5 linked regions of the Homo sapiens genome follow. The protein of the gene in region 1 purifies or fractionates together with the protein of each later gene. This does not show direct contact. Each region holds a gene or a part of one and is shown in the gene's direction. Other genes may lie near its edges. The genes, in order: LNP1, TRPC4AP, PM20D2, NUDT12 and GAN.

What was found.
Region 2: the proteins of LNP1 (region 1) and TRPC4AP purify together in Homo sapiens (affinity purification with mass spectrometry; one large-scale study listed by BioGRID and IntAct). This does not show direct contact.
Region 3: the proteins of LNP1 (region 1) and PM20D2 purify together in Homo sapiens (affinity purification with mass spectrometry; one large-scale study listed by BioGRID and IntAct). This does not show direct contact.
Region 4: the proteins of LNP1 (region 1) and NUDT12 purify together in Homo sapiens (affinity purification with mass spectrometry; one large-scale study listed by BioGRID and IntAct). This does not show direct contact.
Region 5: the proteins of LNP1 (region 1) and GAN purify together in Homo sapiens (affinity purification with mass spectrometry; one large-scale study listed by BioGRID and IntAct). This does not show direct contact.

The regions. Positions count from the first base shown.
Region 1 is NC_000003.12:100,403,864-100,409,029, forward strand, and holds part of LNP1 (leukemia NUP98 fusion partner 1), read left to right. Parts: intron 1-5,166.
Region 2 is NC_000020.11:35,039,775-35,044,940, reverse strand, and holds part of TRPC4AP (short transient receptor potential channel 4-associated protein), read left to right. Parts: intron 1-228; coding exon 229-436; intron 437-5,166. UniProt on the Homo sapiens protein: Substrate-recognition component of a DCX (DDB1-CUL4-X-box) E3 ubiquitin-protein ligase complex required for cell cycle control.
Region 3 is NC_000006.12:89,155,404-89,160,569, forward strand, and holds part of PM20D2 (xaa-Arg dipeptidase), read left to right. Parts: intron 1-2,921; coding exon 2,922-3,057; intron 3,058-5,166. UniProt on the Homo sapiens protein: Catalyzes the peptide bond hydrolysis in dipeptides having basic amino acids lysine, ornithine or arginine at C-terminus. Postulated to function in a metabolite repair mechanism by eliminating alternate dipeptide by-products formed during carnosine synthesis.
Region 4 is NC_000005.10:103,549,488-103,553,370, reverse strand, and holds part of NUDT12 (NAD-capped RNA hydrolase NUDT12), read left to right. Parts: intron 1-954; coding exon 955-1,154; intron 1,155-2,399; coding exon 2,400-2,510; 3' UTR 2,511-3,883. UniProt on the Homo sapiens protein: mRNA decapping enzyme that specifically removes the nicotinamide adenine dinucleotide (NAD) cap from a subset of mRNAs by hydrolyzing the diphosphate linkage to produce nicotinamide mononucleotide (NMN) and 5' monophosphate mRNA.
Region 5 is NC_000016.10:81,351,862-81,357,027, forward strand, and holds part of GAN (gigaxonin), read left to right. Parts: intron 1-2,543; coding exon 2,544-2,894; intron 2,895-4,923; coding exon 4,924-5,141; intron 5,142-5,166. UniProt on the Homo sapiens protein: Probable cytoskeletal component that directly or indirectly plays an important role in neurofilament architecture.

The DNA.
Region 1 (5,166 bases):
AATGATGTAATTCTGTCCCTTCAATTGTCATTGCTACATGAAAGGCCTTTCAGATTGCTAGAGTTGGTAAATAGCTGGTTGACTGGTGTCCAAACCTTCCAGCCAGTGCACAAATCTGCTTATATTAAGCATGTACATATAGAACAGCTCTATTCTCTTTCAGCTGTCTGATGTTTTCATTCTGTTTTTCCTTACTGAAAAATTACTGAAAAGAATTGTCTACATCTGTTACTTATTTGGCACCCATTTCATCCAAAATCTGTTGTAATCTAGTTTACAACTTTATAATTAGGCTGAAAGTGCTTTAGAAGTCATAAAATTCATTGTGGTTTTTTTGTGGGTGGGGGAGGTTGGCTGTCACCCACTTTTACTTGATACCACTGATTATTCTCTCCTTGAAATGTTCTTTTCCTTGGCTTCAGGAGAATAGAGTCTTCTGGTTCTTCTACGCTCTGACCAAACTCTAGATCAGTGCTGTCCATCACAGCTTTCTATGATGCTGGAAATGATTTATATTTATGATGTCCAATATGGTAGCCACTAGCCACATGTGGCTATTGAGCACTTGAAATGTAGTGTGACAAAGACTACAGTTTTCATTATTTAATTGATTTAAGTAGTATCATGTGGCTAATGACTACCATATTGGACAGCACAGCTCTAGATATTCCTCAAGTGAGGAATTTATTAGAATATGTCTTCTTCTTTATCTTCAATCTCTCCATTAGTAACCAAAGTAAATCTCATTGCTTCAGGTACCATTTCTGTGCAGATAATCACTGTCTATATATCTTTTGGCATAGCTTCCCTTTTTACCTCTAGCCCTATATTTCTTACTACTTACTGAGCAGTTTTGCTTGGATTCCTGACTTTTGTCAAAAATATAACTCATCATTTTCCCCACTCATTCTTTCTCTTTGTGTTATCCTTTTTTTTTTTTTTTTTCCAAGATGGAATTTCGCTCTGTTGCCCAGGCTGGAGTGCAGTGGTGTGATCTCGGCTTACTGCAACCTCTGCCTCCTGGGTTCAAGCGATTCTCTTGTCTCAGCCTCCCGAGTAGCTGGGACTACTGGCGCCCGCCACCACACCTGGATAATTTTTTGTATTTTTAGTAGAGACGGGGTTTCACCGTGTTAGCCAGGATGGTCTCGATCTTCTGACCTCGTGATCCGCCCGCCTCGGCCTCTCAAAGTGCTGGGATTACAGGCATGAGCTACTGTACCCAGCCTGTGTTATCCATTTTTTCTAATAATACCACTATTACCTTAGCAGTTACTCATATTTGAAACCATAGACCTTTTTAGACCTCTCTCTTTTTCATCCTTACCTACCCAAGCACAAATGATTATGCTGTTGTATTTATATACACACATAAACACAAAATCAGCTGTGAAGTCTTCAACAAATTCAACTTTGTTGTAATATCTTTCTTATAGTTTTTTCACCCATTCTGACACTTCTTAGTTCATATAAGTGAAAACTCCTAAGAGTATGTATAACACATAACAGATACTCAATAAATAGTTTCTTCCCATCTTAGTACAGGCTGCTATAACAAAAATATCATAAAACTACTTAGCTAATAAACTATAGAAATTTATTTCTCACAATTCCTGAGGATGGGGGTTTGAGATCAGTGTGCCAGCATGGTCAAATTCTGTAAGAGCCCTATTCTGGGTTGAGGACTGCAAATTTGGTTTGTGTCCTCAAATAGTGGAAAGGGGCAAGAAAGTTCTCTGGAGTCTCATTTTTATAGGGGCACTCATCCTATTTTTAAGGGCTCCATCCTCATGATCTAATCACTTCCCAAAGGCCTCAACTCCTAATACTATTACATTCCCCTCTTTTTTCTCTTTTATTCATTTCCTTCATCTTGCCTAAATCCTATATTTGCTTGCTTCCCAGATAATTTCTCTGCCTCTAGTGCCTCTCTTCTATGTGTCACCCTGCACCTTGATATCAATTTACTCTTCCTATAGCATAACTGTAATTTCACTCTTGAGCTGAAAGACTTTTAAATCCTCTTCACTTTCACTATAAAGTTCAACATTTCTGCCCACCCATGCCTCCCTTCATACACCTCTTCTCTTTCTTTGGTCTACGATATTAGCACCTAGCACTATTAGAAATTACCTATGTGGGCCGGGTGCAGTGGCTTGTGCCTGTAATCCCAACACTTTGGGAGGCCGAAGCGGGTGGATCACCTGAGGTCAGGAGTTCAAGATCAGGCTGACCAACATGGTGAAACCCTGTCTCTACTAAAAATACAAAAATTAGCCGGGCATGGTGGCACATGCCTGTAATCCCAGCTACTCAGGAGGCTGAGGCAGGAGAATCGCTTGAACCCCAGAGGCGGAGGTTGCAGTGAGCCGAGATTACCCTATTATACTCCAGCCTGGGTGACAGAGTGAGATGCCGCCTCAAGAAAAAAAAAACCTCTCAGGTGTACACTTGTCTGTGGGAAAAATAAAAAAATAGTGTGATCCCCTCAATAGGATGTAAGCCCCACGAGGACAGAAACTGTTCATTTTGTACAGCCAGAGCCCAGAATATAGGTGGTGTGATGGGTAATTTCATGTGTCAATTTGACTGGGCCATGGGATACCCAGATACTTGTTTAAACATTATAAATGTGTCTGTGGTGGTGTTTTTGATTGCTTGATTTTTATTTTTTTATTTTTATTTTTTGAGATGGAGTCTTGCTCTTGTTGCCCAGGCTGGAGTGCAATGGCATGATCTCGGCTCACTGCAACCTCCGCCTCCCGGGTTCAAGCGATTCTCCTGCCTCAGCCTCCCAAGTAGCTGGAATTACAGGTGCCCGCCACCATGCCTGGCTAATTTTTGTATTTTTAGTAGAGACGGGGTTTTGCCATGTTGGCCAGGCTGGTCTTAAACTCCTGGCCTCATGATCCGCCTGCCTCAGCCTCCCAAAGTGCTGGGATTACAGGCATGAGCCACTTCGCCTGGCTGATTTTTATTTTTAGTGTATCTATTGTCGGTTTTTGCTTCAAAAAACATAGATATTACAGGTTATTTTAGACTGATAACAAGTTAACTTTGATTATTTACACATACACATGCAAACTACACTTTAACTCCACTTCCTTTCCTCAATATTTTGTGCTTTCAATTTCACAATTTAAGTATTTTTATATTGCATATCCATCAACAAGTTGCTGTAGTTATTAATTTTAATACTTTTATCTTTTAGCCCTACTAAAGATACGTGATTTACACACCCTCATTACAGTATTTAAATGCTACCATTACAGTATCAGAGTATTATAAATTAAATTTAGCTATGTACGTATTTTTGCCAGGGAGTTTTATACTTTCAGATGTTTCTGTGTTTATCATTAGTGTCCTTTCAGCTTGAAGAACACCCTTTAGCATTTCTTGTAAGACAGGTCTGGTGGTGATGAACTCCCTCAGATTTTGTGTGACTAGGAAAGTCTTTATCTCATGTTCATTTCTGAATGACAGTTTTGCTGAGTACAGTATTCTTGATTGACAGTCTTTTTTTTCCTTTAGCACTTTGACTATATCATACCACTCTTCCCTGGCCTGTAAGATTTCTGTTGAGAAATCTGCTGCTAGGCATATTGGAACTGCCGTATATGTTACTTGCTTTTTTTGTCTTGCTGCTTTTAGGATCCTGTCTTTGTCTTAGATCTGTAGAGTTTGATTATAATATGTCTTGTGATAGTCTTATTTGGATTGAATCTAATTGCAAATCTTTGACCTTCCTGTACCTGGCTATTTATATATTTCTCCAGGTTTGGGAAGTTTTCTGCTATTACTGCTTTAAATAAGCCTTTTACACCCTTATCTTTCTCTACTCCCTCTTGAATGCTGGTAATTTGCGTATTTGCTCTTTTGATACTATCCCATAAACCCTATAAAGTTTCTTTATTCCTTTCCACTCTTTTTCCTTTCTTCTCCTCTGTATATTTTCATATAACCTGTCTTCAAGTTTACAGATTCTTTTTCTGATTGATCAATCCTGCTCTTGATGCTCTCTATTACATTTTTACATTCATTGTATTTTTCAGCTCCAAAATTGGTCTGATTTTATTATTTCAATTTATCTGGTAAATTTCTCATCTGACCATTTATTATTTTCCTAATTTTGTTGACTTGTTTCTCTGTATTTTCTGAAGTTCTTTGAGCTTCTTTAAAACAGCTGTTTTGAATTCCTTGGCAGATAGTTGATATATCTGTGTCTTTAGGGTCTATGACTGGCATCTTATTTTGTCTGTTTAGTGATGTCATGATTCCCCGATTGTTCTTGTGGTCATGTGTCAGTGTGTGTGCATTCAAGAAGCAGTTACTTATTCCAGCCCTCACAATCTGGCTTTGTCTGGGAACATCCTCTAACAGTAAGCCTGTCCAGAGATTCTAGGCAGGTCATTTGGTGTGGTCTCCGAGCCTGTGACCACTGCAGCCCTTCCAGCTCTAGGGAGTGCTATGTACTCCCTACTGTGACCAGCACAGTGCCACGCTGAAATCCCGTAGTCACTGAAGCTGACTTAGCACTGGGATGGAATCCTGTGGCTGCTGAGGCTGGTGCAGCACTTGGGTGCACCCAAAGCCCACAGCTGCTGAGGCTACTGCAGCACTGGGGTACATCTGAAGCTTGCAGCCACTGAGGGGGCCTGCCTGTTGCTGTGGGTTATTTGGATCCCAAGACCACTGTAGTTGGCTGATGGTGATGTGGGCTGGAACTCAAGTTTGTCTCACAGGGGCTATGGTTTCCCATCTGCTGCCGGGATGGGTCTAGAGTCTCAGTCTGCAGTTACTGGCCTGAAGTCATGGGTCATGGGGGGGTCTACCCAGTGCTGAGTTTTACTGTGACAGGCCTGGTATTGGGGTCCAAGGCAAAGTCTTACCTTTACTTTCCTCTCTTCCTCCCAAGCAGACAATATCTTTTTCCGGGCTGTGCTGCCTGGTCTTGGGGGAAGGGTGACATGGGTAATGTAAAACTGTTCTTCCTACCTACTTAAATGTGTCTTTTCTTATTATTATGCTATAACCAGGTGCTATAATCTCTCACCTGGTTTCCTTAGCTCTCGTGAAGGTATTTTATACATAGATAGTTGTTCAAATTCATATTTCTCTGTGGGAAAATTGCTGGAGAGTCCTATTCCACCATCTTGCTCTACTTTC
Region 2 (5,166 bases), on another chromosome or scaffold:
AGACTAATCCTGTGAGGTAGATTAGTTCCGTTTTACAGATAAACAAGCAAAGACTCGAAAGGTTTTTGTAACTTAACCAAAGTTTCAGAGCTGCAAGTTACAGAGCTGGGATAGGAACCTAAGTGATCTAGCCACTAAGCCCCGTATGTAAGGGGATGCGAAAGAGAGGCACATCCAATCTCTTGAGTGAATTGAGCATGGGGATTGTTTCATTTTTGTCTTCTGTAGGAAATGATCCGACTAGATGAAGTCCCCAATCTGAGTTCCTTAGTATCCAATTTCGATCAGCAGCAGCTCGCTAATTTCTGCCGGATTCTGGCTGTCACCATTTCAGAGATGGATACAGGGAATGATGACAAGCACACGCTTCTTGCCAAAAATGCTCAACAGAAGAAGAGCTTGAGTTTGGGGCCTTCTGCAGCTGAAATCAATCAAGGTAAAGTCTCCAAGTTCTCAGAATTTTGAGATTATAGCTCTGAGGCCCTTACTAAATCATCTAGTTTTTTTTCTTTTTCTTTTCTTTTCTTTTTTTTTTTTTTTCCTTTTTTGAGATGGGATCGTCACTATGTCACCCAGGCAGGAGTGCAGTGGCACAATCGTGGCTCACTGCAGCCTTGACCTCCCCAGGCTCAGGTGATCCTCCCACCTCAGCCACCTGAGTAGCTGGAACTATAGGCAGGTGCCACCACACCGGGCTAATTTTTGTATTTTTTGTAGAGATGGGGTTTCGCCATGTTGCCCAGGCTGGTCTTGACTTCCTGGTCTCAAGTGATCCACCCACCTCATCTTCCCGAAGTGCTAGAATTACAGGTGTGAGCCACCACACCTAGCACCCCTTTTAAATATCTCTAGAGATGGATCCATGTGAAGGCTCCTAGTATGTAAATTTTGTGTATCTGTTCATTATTTTGGGAACTGAGTTCCATACCTTTCATTAGATTTGTTAATGGGCTCAGAACCACAAAAAAAGTTAAGAACTACTTTTTATCAGAATTACAAATGCATATACTTTTTGATCTACTAAGTCTCTCCTGGGCCTTCATTTTATAGATAATGATGTATAGACACTAATCTCCTCTTGTCTGCAGTTTCACTTTCTGTGGTTTCAGTTATCCGTGGTCAACTGCAATCCGAAAATATTAACTGAAAAATTCCAGAGAGAGACCACATTCGTATAACTCTTATTACAGCATCTTGTTACAATTGTTCTATTTTATCATTAGTTATTGTTAATCTCTTAGTGTACCTAATTTATAAATTAAGCTTTATCATAGTTATGTGTGTATATAAGAAAAAACATAGTATATATAGGGTTTGGTGCTATCTGCCATTTCAGGTATCCACTGTGAGGGTCTTGACTAAGGGAGGACTACTGTACAAGATTATTCACTGAGGCCAGGCACGGTGGCTTAACGCCTGTAATCCCAGCACTTTGGGAGGCCGAGGCAGGAGGATCACTTGAGGTTCAGAGTTTGAGACCAGCCTGGCCAACATGGCGAAACCCCATCTCTACTAAAAATACAAAAATTAGCTGGGTGTGGTGGTGCACGCCTGTAGTCCCAGTTACTCAGAAGGCTGAGGCAGGATAATTGCTTGAACCCAGGAGGCAGAGGTTGCTGTGAGCCCAGATTGCACCACTGCACTTCAGCCTGGGCGACATAATTAGACTCCGTCTCAAAAAAAAAAAAAAAAATTATTCATTGCAACATTATTTGTAATAACAAAAGACTAGAAACCCAGATGTTCATTAACACTGGACTGCTTAGTGTATTCAATATTTATATAATGGAAAATTGTGTAGCTTTGAAAAAATGAAGATCTCTATGTACTGCTATAGAAAAATCTCCAAGATATATTAATGATAAAGAGGAAAATACAGAACAGTGTGTATATGGTATAGTTTTTGTATTAAGTCAGGGGGAGAATAAGACCATACGTTTGCCCACATATATGGTATGCCTAAAGAAACAAAGGGTACACAAGAAACATAAAGTGGTTATTAATAGGAAGTAGCTGGTAAGGGAAGGTAGTAGCAGTGGGAGTGGGACTCCTTACTGTATACTTTCATATATTGTTTGATTTTAGAACCGTGTAAATATATTACTTAAAAACAAAACACTATTCTAACCAATCTAGCCCACCTATTTCTGTTCAGTAGCAAAAGAACTGTGTTCTATCTAAAATGTTGTTGCCTGCACAGATTTTGGAGAAACTGGCATAGATGTATTTTGGTCATAAGAGTGTAGATAATTCATATTTGAACTGAAACTTGTGTCTTAAAAGCTAGTTTTTCAATGTTAACAGGCTGGAAATATTGTTAATACAAAAACCTATCACTGTGTACCTTATGGTACACCAAATAAACAAGGTAAAATTATACAAATGTATCATTAAAAAGCAGCAGTAGAAAACCATGACCATGCAGAGGTAGCCCTAATCATGCTCTGAAAACAGTTCTTTGTTTCTAAAGTCCAGTTGTGTGCATTCCCCAGGCTGGCTCTGCAGAGTTATCAAGTGCTTCAGAGCAGCCTCCTCTCCTGAGGCTGAATATGAACCTGCCATTCACTCTGTTATTGTCTAGTTTTAGTTAGGAACATGAGGTGATCATAACTATACTTTGTAGGTTATTAGGGAATATAATTTTACATGTTGTAGTCATATGTAAAGGTAGAAGTTTGTGGACTCCAACCCCAGTTTATTCTCTCTCTAGATTTGCTTTTCCTCCTGTGTCACTAGATACAAGGTCTTCCTTGGTCTGTGTACGGTTTTCTTCCCACTCCTTTATGATTTTGGGGGAGTTCTCATTTTAGGAAATTTACATTTTTAAAAAATATGTGACTTTCCAACATGGCACATATATACATATGTAACAAACCTGCACGTTGTGCACATGTACCCTAGAACTTAAAGTATAATTTTAAAAAAAGTGACTTTCATTATAACTAAATTATACCTCAGAGCTGGTGTACACACCTCCATATACATTGACAAAAGGTAGTATTTGCTAAGCTCCTGGTATGTGGCAAACGCTGGGTAACTGCTTTACCTAGAAGTGATTTTATTTAATCCTTCAAGTGCCCTGTGGAATAGAGATTAGTATCCCCATTGCACATGTGAGGAAACTGAGGGCTAGAAAGGTTCTGTATTGGATGCCTGTGTATGCCGAGGCACTAAGTAACTTTCATCTTTTAGTTTCCCATTTAAGGAATCTATTCTGGCAGATGATTTTGATCCTGTTAGTATTGATTGCTTTCAGATGCCTATTTGTAAACTGACTTAAGTAAAACCAGCATTACCCATTATTCTTGAGGAATGAACTGTTCTGGTCAGCTGGGCTTTTTTGATTAACTGAGAACGGAAAGCCCAGTTTTTGTTTTTGTTTTTTTATTTGGGAGTTTTTTCTTAAAGTCTCTATAAAATAATCTAGATTCACTTTCATATCTGTGTGACTAGCCTAGTAGACAGTCTATGTGTGATTCTGCTTGTAGCTTTTGGGATAAAGCCTAAAAGTTGTAGTTCCACACATGAGGTTGTGCAGGATCTGACCCTTCCCAACCCTGACCATAATTCCTACTCCATTCCCTTACCCGCACGATTTTCTCCATTCAAATGCCCTGGGAAGGCCAAGCTGGTGGACATAATTAAATCACGAGTGGATGAGGAAAGTCTTAGTCCTCTGAATGTTATCATTCTTGAATTGCGCTCCAGTAGTGAATGCCTTTATCTCAGGTGTGTGTATCAGTCAGCTTGAGCTGCCATAACAAGGTACCGTAGACTAGGTGGCTTAACTAACAGACATTTATTTTTCTCACAGTTCTGGAGGCTAGAAGTCCAAGATCAAGGTGCTGTCAGGATTGGTTCCTGGTTGAGGCCTTTCTTCCTGGCTTGTAGAAGGCCACCTTTTTATTGTATCCACATATGAATTTTCCTCTCTGTCATTGAGGAGAGACGGAGATCTCTGGTGTCTCTTCCTCTTCTTAGAAGGACACCAGTCCTCTCGGTTTAGGGCCCCACACTTTGTAACCTCATTTAACCTTAATTACTTCCCTGTATTAGGCAGCAGTCTCCAGAGAGACAGAAGCAGTAGGATTTATGAGGTGGGATTTGTTAGGGGAATTGGCTCACACGATCACAGGCGGAGGAGTCCCATGATAAGCCATCTGCGACAAAAATTAGCTGGGCATGGTGACACGCCTGTAATCCCAACAACCTGGGAGGCTGAAGCAGGAGAATTGCTTGAACCCAGGAGGCAGAGGTTGCAGTGAGCTGAGATTGTGCCATTGCACTCCAGCCTGGGCAACGAGTGAAACTCCGTCTCCAAAAATAAATAAATAAAATAAAAGATAAGCCGTCTGCAAGCTGGAGAACCTGAGAAGCCATTAGCATGGCTCAGTCCAAGTCCGGAAAACTTAGAACCAGGAAAGCTAATGGTGTAGCTCCCCGGCTGGAGGACCCCAGAAACTGCTGGTGCAAGTCTCAGAGACCAAAAGCCAAAGATCCTGGAGTCTGATATCCAAGAGCAGTAGGAGAAAAACTTCCCACTCCAGAAGGGGGAGAATCCCTTTTTGTTTTCCTCCATCGCCTCCCACTGCTCCCCCACCAATTGGATGGTGCCTGCCCACATTGAGGGCAGATTTTCCCTTAGTTCACACACTCATACACCAATCTCTTCTGGAATCACCTTCACAGACACACCCAGAAACAGTGCTGTGCCAGCCATGTAGGCATCCCATAGTCCAGTCAAGTTGACAGCTAAAATTAACCATCACACCACCGCATTCCCTAAAGGGCCTGTTTCAAAACGCAGTCATATTTAGGGCTAGAGCTTCAACGTATGAATTTGTGGGGGCGCGGGGGGTGGGGACACAGTCCATAACTGTATGGAAAGCTGAAATATGTAGGATGTTGCCAAAAAGTTTTCGTTTCGTTTTTAATAAACTGTGGCTGTGAGGTCATTTTCTTGTCTAGCAAAAATAATGATTTACACTATCTTCCTGGGGCTCAGATAATTTACATGTAATTATCTAATGTAAATTATCTGAGCCCCAGGAAGATAGCGTAAGTCATTATTTTTTGAGATTCATTTTAAAATAAATAATTATTTTTTGAGTCCTTTTTGAGATTCTCAGAACTACCAGTTGTTCTTCTGTCGATTTAGAAGAGAAC
Region 3 (5,166 bases), on another chromosome or scaffold:
CAGCCAGCTGAGTAGCTGGGACTACAGGCACGCACCACCACACGTGGCTAATTTTTTGTATGTTTTTCTGGAGACAGGGTCTCACCATGTTGCCCAGGCTGGTCTCAAACTCCTGAGCTCAAGTGATCCACCCACCTCGGCCTTCTAAAGTGCTGGGATTATAGGCATGAACCACCTCGCCCAGCCAGCGAAAGCCATTTCTGAAGTTAGGGTGTGTATAGTAGTGATATAAATACTATGGCTTGCTGGAATGGAAGATAAAATAGACACAGAAGTTAGTTAAGAGGTTTTATTGATTTGTTTCTGTTTGTTTGTTTGTTTTTGAGACAAAGTCTTGCTCTATTGCCCAGGCTGGAGCGCAGTGGTGCAATTTTGGCTCAACGCAACCTCCTCTGCCTCCTGGGTTCAAGCGATTCTTATGCCTCAGCCTTCCAAGTAGCTGGGACTACAGGCGCTTGCCACCACACCTGGCTAATTTTTTTTTTTCTTTTTTTTTTTTGAGGCGGAGTCTTGCCCTGTCACCCAGGCTGGAGTGCAATGGCGCAATCTCAGCTCACTGCAACCTCTGCCTCCCAGGTTCAAACAATTCTCCTGCCTCAGCCTCCTGAGTAGCTGGGATTACAGGCGCCTGCCTCCACACCCAGCTATTTTTTTGTATCTTTAGTAGAGACGAGGTTTCATCATGTTGGCCAGGCTGGTCTCGAACTCCTGACCTTGTGATCCACCCACCTCAGCCTCCCAAAGTGCTGGAATTACAGGTGTGAGCCACCACACTGACTGGTTTTGTTGATTTGAACTATAAAGTTAGTATTTAAAATCATGTACTGTGTAAAGTGGAGTGAGTTTTAGAATTATACAAGATAAGAATCTTGCCCTAGAGGGAGCCTGTAGTCTAGTTGGAGAGACAAGATCTTGACCCATAACTCTCAGCCTAGCTAATTCTGTAACCTTTAGAAATGTTTAGTGTCTTTGGCTCTCCATTTTCTTGCTTGAAAAATGGAGATAATAACAATTTATCTTAGGATTCTTGTGAGAATTAAATGAGATAATGTTTCTGAAGGGTTTAGAGCCCAGCCTTCATTTATATTGCCTTATTTTTTTCTGTTCTTATTAGTCTAGAGATGTATGATTGATTCACGTAGTAGCAGTATCTCACAGTAGCAGTAATTCTCAGAAAGCATATGTTACGTGTCCTGAGAGTAGTGTGGAATGTGTCGTGAGGATCAGAGGTGGGAAAGAGTGGTCTGGGGCTGTTAACCTTGGAGGAAGGTTTTGTGGAAGACTGTAGACCTGAACTGAGCTTTGAAGGTTGATCATACTTTCAGATATGCATGGGAAAGACAGAGACTGAAAGTTCTTAGGGAATATAGTCAGCAAAGATAAGAATATAGAAGCTCGTGTTGTGTTGTAGTTAATCGATAAACATATGGACAGATGTAGGAGCAAAGATGTATTCTCATATGCCACTAGAGAAGATGGTTATAGTGAATGAAAACTGTGAAATGTCCATAGCTGAGGGCAGTAAAAACTAAATATTTATTCCCTTATTCATTTATAATTATAAATATTTATTTGTGAAATACTTATGGATGTGAACTATTATCATTAGGCAATATCTCAAGGTATACAGTATTCCCTTATGGTAAGGTTTGTTGTTATTGGATTTGAATCTATATTTAATTTAATTTATTTATTTTTAAAGTTTTTTGTAGAGATAGGCTCTCCCTGTGTTGCCCAGGCTGGTCTCAAACTCCTGGGCTCAAGTGATCCTCGTGCTTTGGCCTCCCAAAGTTCTGGGATTGCAGGTGTGAGCCACCTTGCCTGGCCTAAATCTATATTTTAAATAATCTTTTAGTAATTTCTTATATTTTGGCTGACTTGTAAGGTCTGATTTGGTTGTCATAATTTCTACCGTAGATGTTGCTAAGAATAAAAGAAATGTCATCTCTGCCATTTTATGATTGGCTTTTGCTAATATTGGTTTGAGGGAATATTGCCAATTTTTATTTAATCAAAACTGAATCTGTAAATCCACTTAACTGGGCACATAAAAGCTGCTTCCGTATCTTTATATACTGAAATTAATAAATGAGGACTGTTGTCAACCCTTCCTCATTGCAAATCTTCTACATTTCCCTCAGAGTACTTTTCTACCTCTCACACCAGGCAGTGATGTCAGTGTCAGTTTGCATATTGAATATTAGTAAAGCTTAATTTCTTTTTTTTGGAGACTGAATCCTAGAGCAGTGTTCCTCAGAGTGTGGTTTTTGGGTCACCTATGTCAGAATTACTTTGAGGTGCTGGTTAAAATAAAAATTAGGCTGGGTGCAGTGGCTCATGCCTGTAATCCCAGCACTTTGGGAGGCCGAGACGGGCAGATCACATGAAGTCAGGAGTTTGAGGCCAGCCTGGCCAACATGGCAAAACCCCATCTCTACTAAAATACAAAAACAATTAGCTGGGCTTGGTGGCAGGCGCCTGTAATCCCAGCTACTTGGGAGGCTAAGGCAGGAGAATCATTTGAACCTGGGAGGCGGAGGTTGTGGTGAGCTGAGATCACACCACTGCACTCCAGCCTGGGCAACAGAGTGAGACTCCATCTCAAAAATAAAATAAAAATTTCTGGGCCCTTCTCATACCCTATCTAGGTGACTGAAGTTGACACTTGGTAGCTAGTATAGAGCTTGGTGACATTGTGGGGTTTAGTGTATATATAGCATAAAAGAGAGTCCTAGGAACTCTCGTTATAGAAAATAAATCTTTTTTCTTTTTTAAGGTAAGAGATTTGAGAGTGTTTATATCTGGAAGGGAAAGTATCTTCTCTTAAAACCTCTTCCTATTAGAGAACAATCACTGGTTTGAAAATTAGATAGTGAATTTGAGTTTTTTATTTCAAAATTTGTTTTGCAATTTTTTATTAGGTGGAAATTAAAGGTGGAGCACATGATTATTACAATGTTCTTCCCAATAAGAGCCTATGGAAAGCCTATATGGAAAATGGAAGAAAGCTAGGAATAGAGTTCATTTCAGAAGATACAATGTTGAATGGCCCTTCAGGTAATTAAGTGTTTTTTTATATATTGAGCTATTTGAGGAAGAGAAATACCATCTTTGGTTAAATTGGTTGTATTTAATGGTTTGGGAGGTCGGGAGGTACTACTGACGTTTTTAATATTTTCACAAACTTTATGGTTAGGGGAAAGAAACTAATGGACTCTTAAGTGAGTGTAGAATGTCAAACGAGCAGACTTGATTTTAGAAATAGTCAACCTACATTTTTGTCTGTATTCTAAATATTTTCTAGTGTTTAAGTTTCGTTAGTTTTAATTTTTAAGTAAGTTGCTAAGGTGGGATATAGAATTTTAATTCATTCTCAGTCATCACAATAAGCAGGTTACTAAGTACTTAGTTATCTGGGGCATTTTCAGTTTCTGAGGAGCAACAGACAGCTAGAATTGAAATAAGCATATTTGGGGTTATGTTAGTTTTTTTTTCCTTTTAAAAGCATATTATTACTAATACATTTGCAAGTTAGAGATGTATCATCTGTTTTAAAAATAGATGTTGTTGAAGTAGGCCCAAAAGGACTTGGTGGTGAAAATGGGGTGTCGGTGTCATTCATTAAGATAAGGAGTTCAAGAGAAAGAGCAGGTTAGGGTAAGAGGGGGTTGTTATAAATTATTAGTATGTTAAACTTGAGGTGCTTATAGTATTTCTAAGTGGAGCTGTTCAGTACCTGTTAAATCTAGAACCCAAAAAGATGTCTAGTTTGGAGATTTAGGAGTTGTCCATATATGAAAGGTATATAGAAGACATAGATGTCGATGAGGTTGCCCAAATACATAGAGGAAGAAGATTCCCAGAGATCAGACATTGGCAGTCAACGAAGTGGTCAGAGAGAAAGCCAGACAATCAGGAGAGAGGAGAAGTCATGGAAGCCAAGGGAGAAGAAAACTTACAGAAGAGAAGGAGGCATAAATCATGTCAAGTGCTGTAGAGACTGAATAAGATGAATATGGTCTAGTGTCCACTGGACTCTAGTAATTAGAAATTCATGAATTGTCTGGAAGAAAATAGTATAAGACCAGTGGTACCAGATGCTGGGTCTCACTTCTCTACCCAGGGCATTGACTGCTGAGATAGTGGAAGTAGCAAATGAAGACTATTCTTTTTCAAGAGAGTTAGCTTTCAAGGAAAATAGAAAGAGTGGATACAAGCTTGAGGGAAATACGGAAAAGAAAATAGTTTTTAAGGGAAGATACTTGAGAAGTAGATGTAATGTTTAGGAAGGAGGTCAGGGAGTTCAGAGACTTTCCCTCTAGGAAGTAGCACACAGTGAGCATTGAGCTGGTAGGGCTGAGGGATTGAGAGAGAATTGCCACTGAGAGGAGTTGTCCAGGGACATCAGAGTTTCATGTTTTCTTTTGTTCTGGACAGCAAGAAAGCTCAGCTCAGCATGGTTCTGTTCTTTTACCCTAGCAGGTTTCTGCTGTCTAGCTGAAGAAGGGAAGACACATGGCCTGCTCTACCCCGGGTTTGGGTTTTATATAATGGACAAAACAGTAGGATAAAGTGGCTGTGATTTTGGTATGATTTGTGGGCTCTAGGGTCTAGTTCCACAAGTAAGATCTTAAAATATGCAACAGGTTTTTTTTTGTCCATCCTTTTTTGTTTTGTTTTGTTTTTACACTCAGACTCTTTAGACTCTTTAAACACTGGAGAGGCTTTTTCCATCCTGTTCACTGATGTCCCATTACTGTGCATCCTCAGTGTGTGGAGCCGTTTCTGGCACAGTTAAGTGCTTAGTGAATATTTTCTGAAGCAGTACTTCTATAGAGGCTACTATGCCTCAAAGTCTGGCCTCAGTCTGCATTTACCACATAACTAGCAGCTGTGAGACTATCGGCATGTTATTTAATACCCATAAGCCTTGGTTTCTTCATGTTTAAAATGGAAACTGTTCTAAATATTAATGAGAATACATACAAAGCACTTAGGATTGTGTTTGGAACGTAGTATTCCAGATAAATGTTAGCTACTCTTTGTCACATATTCCTTTATTCTCTTACCAATCACTGTGTAGTCTCACTTTGCCTGCATGGTGTTTGACATGTAATAAACATTCAGTAAATATCCATTGAGTGAACATAAGGCTTTGTTTTTACT
Region 4 (3,883 bases), on another chromosome or scaffold:
AGGCATTCAGTTTTCTTTTCTCTGAATTTTAGATGTTTATCTTTTACCTAGTTTTGTTTTCATTGTTTATCCTTTTTTATTCATTTTAAGAATTCTTAAATATGTAGCATATGCTAATCTTTTGTTAGTTATGGTTTTGCAAATACCTTACACTAGTCTATAATTATATTTTTACTATATGTGTTCTTTTGATTATTATAAGTTAATTTTCATGTAGGAAATTTATCAATCTATTTGAAATAGAAAGCTATATTTAAAATATATTTTGCTAAATACAGCAATATTTAGCAAAATGTTTCTAAACTTCCAGATTTTACTTAGAAATGATTTTACTTAGAAACAATTTCCCCTATTCTAATTCTTAATTCCAACAAATTAGAAATATAAAGTACATTTATAGGCATCACTTACCATAGCAGAGTCAGCAGTCATCTAGAGGAAAATAATTGCTTAGAAAAAGTATTAAATTTCATCTTATGTAGTTTGTAATCTTGTAATGACCTGAAAAGAGTTACCTGCAATAATTGTTTGACAACATAATAAAAAAAAGTTTCAGAATTTTAGTGTGAAAGAGCTATTTGTAAAAATCATGTAATTTATAACTATTTCGTGGACAATATATACATGAGATAAGATATAAAGTGTTTGCATAGTGTTTAACCAGTATTAGGTATTGGATATTTTTAGATGGTATCATTATTTTTAAAATGTAACTGACAAATTTGTACCTTAAAAAAACGAAAAGTTTATTGTTGGCATTTTGATATTCTATATGTGGTCATGTACTTTAAAAAAATTGTTTTCTTCAATTACAGTCTAGTTTTAGGCTTCTGCTTTCTGATTATTTGCATTGGGTTTCTGTCCAAAGTGATTTCCAGATGTTTGAACCATTCAGGACACAAAGTGTCCCGGGCATGTTCATCAGCAACTTGTTCTTTTGCTCCATTTCATTAGGAGAGACAATAGAAGATGCTGTTAGGAGAGAAGTAGAAGAGGAAAGTGGAGTCAAAGTTGGCCATGTTCAGTATGTTGCTTGTCAACCATGGCCAATGCCTTCCTCCTTAATGATTGGTTGCTTAGCTCTAGCAGTGTCTACAGAAATTAAAGTTGACAAGAATGAAATAGAGGATGCCCGCTGGTTCACTAGAGAACAGGTAAAGTTCAATTTAATTTCCTTCTTCTATTGATTGTTCCCTGACTGTATTGGTTTGGTCACAGAGCAAGGATGCATATTTTCAGCAAGTTGAATGATGCCTTTGGCCCTCTCATTATGCATGGATTACATGGTAATTAGTAATTCCATACAGGAGGAGTATGTTTCACTAATGTGATCTATATTAACTTATTCTATGAGATTTTTCTAGTAGAGATGATTCTGTACCATTTCGAGTTTCAGATTCCATTCCTTCACATAAATAATAATACCTATCAGTGGGTTTAGAAAAACATTAATTCATAGATGAGAAACAGGAATATTCTTATACATTTTATATTTTAGTTTATAACATTAAAACAAGTAGCTCTCAAAAAACATCAGTAAGTGCTTAAAATTTTCAGAAAGTTTTTATTCATTTTAAAATGTACTTAAGGACAAGAATGACATAACTGTATAATAAACATACACTTAAAATAACTTTCTAAAATGTCATTCCTAAATAATATATTAAAAGATAAATTACTCATCTGACCTGAAATTCTTTCTGACTTTGCCTGCATAAAATTAATTTTATTCTATGCTTAATCCTAAAAGATGGAAATTAGATTATTGCTTATGAATTTTATAAAAAAGAATCTGTTTCAAAAGTTGGCTTTGCTTAGAAATTAAGTGTGGAGCGTACATTTTGCTTTTTCGTGATGTCATTTTCATAAGGGAATGTGTCTTTCTGGAACATTTTAGAAACTGAATCACTTACTCAGTGAAGCAATTAAAAATGCTGTCCTAAATTTTGCATGTTGAGGCGGGGCGTGGTGGCTTATACCTGTAATCCCAGAACTTTGGAAGGCCAAGGCAGGAAGCTTGATTGAGCCCAGGAGTTTGAGACTAGCCTGGGCAACATAGGGAGACCCTGTCTCTACAGATAATTTTTAAAAAGTTAGCCAGGTGCACCTATGGTACCAGCTACTTGGGAGGCTGTGGCAGGAGGATCGCCTGAGCCCAGGAAGTCAAAGCTGCAATGAGCCATGATCCCACCACTGCAACTCCAGTCTGGGTGGCAGAGTGCAAGACCTTGTTTCCAAAAAAAAAAAAACTTTGCATGTAAATATGGATGTTGTCACTTTCTACTGTTGTTATTCACTGTAAAACTCATCACATTTTAATTGAATTATGTAAACATGGGAATAGTATTTAAATATGACAGCTTTGAAATCCTAATGCATTCTATTATGGTGTGTTTTAGGTCCTGGATGTTCTGACCAAAGGGAAGCAGCAGGCATTCTTTGTGCCACCAAGCCGAGCTATTGCACATCAATTAATCAAACACTGGATTAGAATAAATCCTAATCTCTAAATCTAAGAACTAAGCTTTGAGTATTATTTAATAATTTCTAATAACACTCATTCCTCAAGTGATATTAGAGATTATTCAGTACTCTTGAGAGTGTCACAACACAAAATACGATGTTGGGTTTTCGAAATATTTTCAAAGTGTTCTGTCTTAATCACAAATTCATATTTTTACACATTTTTACAATATTGCCTCAGATTATGTTAAATTTGGGTCAGTCTTCTCTGAACTTTTTCTCTCTTGGTTTCTTTTCTTCCTTCACAGTTTTATCTCACAAAACCATTTTTCTAATAAGAGACATCATGTTGGAAAGATGTTCTAGAAATGTGCATAAATTTCAGTGCCTCTTGTAAGCATTAAACTGATGATGAAGAAAGTTCCTGATTTGAGAAATGAATCAAAGTAATTTTAATGAATTTTTAGCTTGTATTAGCTTGAGTTAGCTGGCATTGATTTTTTAGTCCTTTTGTTACCTTTAAGTTGTCAATATATGGTTTTTGTTCATCTCCCCATTGTAGTCCCACTTGCTCTTTCCTGGGGGTTCCATTGTTCTAGCAGTGGAGGTGTTATAGTGTCGCCACTCGTCTAATTTGACCAGTGTTAAGAATTTTCTAATTTAATAATTTAATAGTGATCTCAATACCACACCCTCATGGAAGGAGAAAAGCATACTATTATATCTGGGACCTCTCTTTTAGACCTAAAATTAATTAACATATCTACTTATATGTTACTTATACCTAAAGCTGTTATTAAGACAAACCAAGATTCTCTGCTTTTGCACTGAAATTAAACTTGAAAGGAATTCTCCTCAAAGGTCGGATATTAAATAAGTCCCAGGCAGATTTACATATTTAATTTAAAACATTGGCTTTATTTCATTTTGTGATGAGTGATGTATCTGTGTTAACAAAAAATTGTATAATCATTACCAATACTATTTATTATGCTCAAATATATCTTGGCTTTGACCTTATTTCAACACATTCTAAGAAGCCTTGACAAAGTAAGTATATTTTAGAGCTGAATCAGTAAGATTCTAGAGAAAGCAAAACATAGTAGTTCACAATTTTGCAACATAGAAAGTCACATTTTGAAAGGCTATTTTGAAATTGATTTAATAGCTATTATAGTTTATGAATATCAAAATTTGTATAATTTGCATCTTTACTAATGTATGCTAGAGCTACAAGAGACCTTAAGGATAATATATGAAATTAGCTTTCCTTATTTTATAGATAAGGAAAAAGAAATTGTGAAAGGTGAATTTACCTAATTAGTGAAAGTTACATAACTAATTACAACAGTCTGTACTATATAATGCAGAGGACGATTCTCCCTGTAAAAGGAACTAGAAGCTATTACTAAAAATATAT
Region 5 (5,166 bases), on another chromosome or scaffold:
TTCTTCCATGGCTGTGCTCCTAGAGAAGCAGAGGAAGTAAGATCTTAGACTCAAATCTCAGTTTGTTGCTACCATTCTGAGCTCCACCTTCTCATATGAGATATTAAAGAACATGGGATGCTGCCCTGACTGCTGTGTTTTTGGTTTTTGCTTTGGAATCCCGATTCCAGTCTTGCTTTGTATCCATATGACTGGGGATACAAAACTTGTTTTGTCTCCATAGCATGGAAATAGGAACTTCCTGGGGCGTTGTGGATTATTTGGTAGAAATAGAGAGTTCCTTGTAGATCATTCCCAGAGAAAGATGACTGACAGACATGACAAGCACCTTATTCACGATGCCCTGGTCCTGTTGCCTCAGTAGTACCCACATCCCTGCCCCACCCTTATTCTCTCTTCCCTCTCCATGTCCACTTGAACCTCTGGGGACTTTGTGATACCCAGGGAGGAGAATGATAAACGATCAGACTTCTTTCTTTTCCTTTGCCCTCCTCCGACTACCCATTCCCCATGACGTGATTTCAAGCAAAGCATGAGGACTCAAGAAAAATCTTCCGTGTGAATCAGGGCTAGTTTTTTGTTTTGTTTTTTTAACAGAAGGAAGAGGTCAGTGCATCTTACCTTTGGCTGTGTGAGAATGCATTTCATCTTTATTCTTTCTGAGATCTTGTTCCCTACTCTCTCCTTTATTCTTTCTTTATCCCTCTTGTTTTCCTTTCTGTAGGGGCTGTTTGTCTTACATATTTTCTAAGTATTCTGAATGTATTGCTTTCTTTATCTAAATATATTCATTCTGTCCAGAGTTAAACGCAGTGATTCTCATCCTTTTTGAAGGTTTTGGTTTGATTTCATGCTTTCTCTCTTCTCTCAGCACTAGTGGGTGGGTGTGTACGTGTATGATTGTTAAAAGTAAATGAATTTAAGTTAATCTGGGGACAGCCCAGAGATGCTCTGTAGCATCACATAACCAGGGCTAAGACCAACCTCTCCTCCACCTTGTAAAGTCAATCCAGCAGCAGTTATTAGTATAATGAGTTATAAGCCAGTAAGAGCCTATTCATGTTCAGGCTTGGATTTGAAAGTTGAAACATTATTTACAGATTGAGTTCTGTGATTTGTTCCCAATTTAAATTTAAAACGATAGTTGGGGCCGGGCGCGGTGGCTCACGCCTGTAATCCCAGCACTTTGGGAGGCCGAGGCGGGTGGATCACGAGGTCAGGAGATCGAGACCATCCTGGCTAACACGGTGAAACCCCGTCTCTACTAAAAATACAAAAAATTAGCCGGGCGAGGTGGCGGGCGCCTGTAGTCCCGGCTACTCGGGAGGCTGAGGCAGGAGAATGGCGTGAACCCCAGGGGGCGGAGCCTGCAGTGAGCCGAGATTGCGCCACTGCACTCCAGCGTGGGCGACAGAGCGAGACTCCGTCTCAAAAAAAAAAAAAAACGATAGTTGGAATGTAAGTTATAACAAACTCCTGAATTGGCAGTTTTGTTTTATTGAAATGCAGTTGAGTGTTTTTTTCACGTGCCTATATTTGAAGAGTCTACAGCTGCCTGCTGTCTTGTGGCTAAATATAATGTCATATAAATGGAACATTTTCCCCTACTTGTGGCTTACTCACCATACTACTTTCCACATTTTTGTTGCTCAGTTTCTAAGATGATTGGCAATTATACTTTTTTAAAAATCTGTGGTACAAAAAGTGTAAAATGTAAAAATGTTTCTTGCTATACTCCTCATGAAGTCTCCCTTGCATTTGCGAATGTGGGTGAAGTGCCCATGCTTTGGGGTCGTCCACTTAGGACTGTGGCAATATTTTAGAGAACTGTTTCTTTCCTGATGCTTTGGAGCACTGTGAAGTCAGTGGAGGAAGAAGCATTAGTCAGAAAATTGAAGAAAATTAAGGAAAAGTAGATGTTCATAATGAGAAAAAAAAAACACCCTTGTATTAGGGATTTATTCCAAAAAGTAGTTTTGAGACCTAAGTGTATCTGTCTGTGTACCAAATTGCACTGCGTACAGTGTTTTGGGATGCGGAATGAGGCTTCTGAAACACTGGAAACCCCTCTCCCTTCAAGGGGTTAGCATTCAGGTTGGCATGCCATTTAGCGGAAGAGTGAACTTCATAGGTGGGGAGGCAAGATTTTCATCAGTTCTGATGCTGGTACTTAATCATGTTGACTTTACCATAGAATGTAGAACTTTCCATTTCCCAAGCATTTGAGTCATTAAGGTTTTTCTCTGAATTACAGAAGTGAACAACATGGACAGTTCACCCTAAAAGGGTTATTGGTGGTTGACATTGGTACAGCAAGGGCAGAGCTGGGAAAAGTTAACCAAGCACACATTTGCTTATGTTGGTGCCTTCCAACTCTTGGAAAAAAAAAAAAAAATGCTGGGTTAAACCATATGAAATTGCCAATATTCGATTATCTTTGATCTAAAATAAATGGAAATTTCATGTGGCCCCAATTAATAGGTTAGTGGTTTGGGTTTTAAATGTACACATTCAAATATAAGATAATTATGCTACTTTTTTAGATCAGGCTAAATGAAGATACAATCCAAGATGTTGTTCAGGCAGCTGACCTGCTGCTACTGACGGACCTTAAAACCCTGTGCTGTGAGTTTTTGGAAGGCTGCATTGCTGCTGAGAACTGTATTGGTATCCGTGACTTTGCACTACATTACTGCCTCCATCACGTTCATTACCTTGCCACAGAATACCTGGAGACTCATTTCCGAGACGTCAGCAGCACGGAAGAATTCTTAGAGCTGAGTCCTCAAAAGCTTAAAGAAGTGATTTCTCTTGAGAAGTTAAACGTTGGCAATGAAAGATATGTCTTTGAAGCAGTAATTCGATGGATAGCACATGATACAGAAATAAGAAAGGTACCTGTCATTTATAACATGGTCAAATTTGCCTTTTTATTTCTTTTTAATTCAAATTTTAGTTGTTTTATTTTTCTTCTTCATCATGAAAGACTTACGATGCAGCAATCTAAAAGATACCTGTAAAACATGTTCCCCTATATCATGAAAGCAGTTGGTTTTTCAGACCAGTCTGCAAAAGCCCATGCCACACAATATATCAGTGAAAATATTAGCCCTTGTAAGGAGCGTAATATCCTTTGTATGTTGTTTTTAATGGGAAAATGCATTTCAAGCTTAAGCTGGAGATTATAGAAACGCAGTATCCCCACCCTTGCTCTCAGCATCCTGACCTACTATATCACTAGGCTAACCTCTGCCAGGCCTCAGGTGCCTGCAGCAGGCAGGGGGGTGGCACGTGGATCGATGGCAGGGGTGGAGGGGCATGGGCCTGAGGAGCTTCAGGTGTGATTGACACCACGCAGGAGAAAGCAGGCAGGCTCTGGAGTTTGTGTGGCAGTGCAGTTTCAAGAGGGAAGGTTCTGGGAGTGAAGGTCTTAAAGAATATCAGCCTCTAGATCCAAATTGTGAATACCTTGGAGGAAGGAGCAAAATCACAGGACTTGAGGGTTTTGAGGGGGCAGAGAGTCTCAGTCTGTCTCCCAGGCTGAAGGGCAGTAGCCAGAGTGGCACGATCATAGCTCACTGCAGTCCCAACCTTCCTGGCTGAAGTGATCTTCCCACCTCAGCCTCCGAGTAGCTAGGACCACAGGCGTGTGCCACCATGCCTAGCTAATTGTTTGATTTTTGTAGAGACAGGGTCTCGCTGTGCTGCCCAGGCTGGTCTCAAACTCCTGTGCTCAAGCAATCCTCCCACTCTAGCTTCCCAAAGTGCTGGGATTACAAGTGTGAACCACCATGCCCAGCCAGGACTTCATTTTTAAGTCTGATTATTATAAATAAGACACTAGCTCCAATTACTGTTTTCAAAATAAGAAATATATTAGGTGTTAGAGAGTGGATCTCACAATGTATAATTTTACTGTTAATTGTTCTTGTAAGTTAAAACTGGACTGTTAAATTTTGATGATTATCTTATAATTTTTTGAATTCTGTAAGCCCATAAGTATGCATGTTTAGAAACCATATTTGTAGTATTGGTTTTAATTGGGACAGGTAAGGACAGGTAGTGTTCTGCTTTCCATGTTAGTTGGGGAAATTGGTAAAGGAGATAGAAAAATGAGAAAAATTTCCTATGTGCTCCCACTCACCAAGACCACAGTGGGACATGCTGCTCCTTGCCAGCTTCCGTCCTGCCCTCTTCTTGCCTTAAAGCAAGGGAGATGCTTAAGGTTGGCTGGTTGCTGGGAAAACGAGGCAGTTCTTTGTCCTTTGGTCAGTTTAAACTTCATGCTGTAAAGACAGTTGATTTTTAAAACTCACAGTTTTATTTTACATTTATAAAATACTTTCGTCAGTTCAAATTTAGTGATTGAGCAGTAAAAGTGTAAATTCATATTAGTCGTCTTAGATATTTTTGAACAGTAATTACTGCAAAAATGATTATATAGTACTCAGGTTTTTTTTTAAACTTTGGCTTTTGTATATTTTTCTTGTATTATTAATGTTGATGTCTAAGTTTACCATATTGTATTGAGCTATTACTGTATATAATATTTGTATAAACATGATTTAACTCATGGCACATCCAAATGTGTGAAATAAAGCAAATTATAGCTGGTTCTTTTCCTGTCTTTTCCTATTGAAATGGGAATCCTTTAAGGTGTAAAGGAAGCTGCTTGAAACTTTTACAGTGATACCTCAAATAAACTGATGATTTTTAAAAATTAAACTTTTACTTATCAAGACTCTGGGAAGTAGACAGTTAGGGCCAGGAGAAGATATTCAAGCAGCACGAGTGTGTCTCACTTGCCTGGTAATAACCTGAGTGTTAACAGTTTGTTTTCCATGAGGTGGAAAATGTAGATTCTAAAAATGATGTGTTGCATTTTCCATTGTTTTCGCCCCATCTTTCTTCCCTCTTCTGCAGGTCCACATGAAGGATGTTATGTCAGCTCTGTGGGTTTCAGGGTTGGACTCCAGTTATTTACGGGAACAGATGCTGAATGAACCATTAGTACGAGAAATTGTCAAAGAGTGTAGCAATATACCGCTCAGCCAGCCGCAGCAAGGGGAGGCGATGCTGGCCAACTTCAAACCCCGGGGCTACTCTGAGTGCATCGTGACTGTTGGTGGAGAAGAGAGAGTGTAAGTATGAGGTGGGACTTGTTTG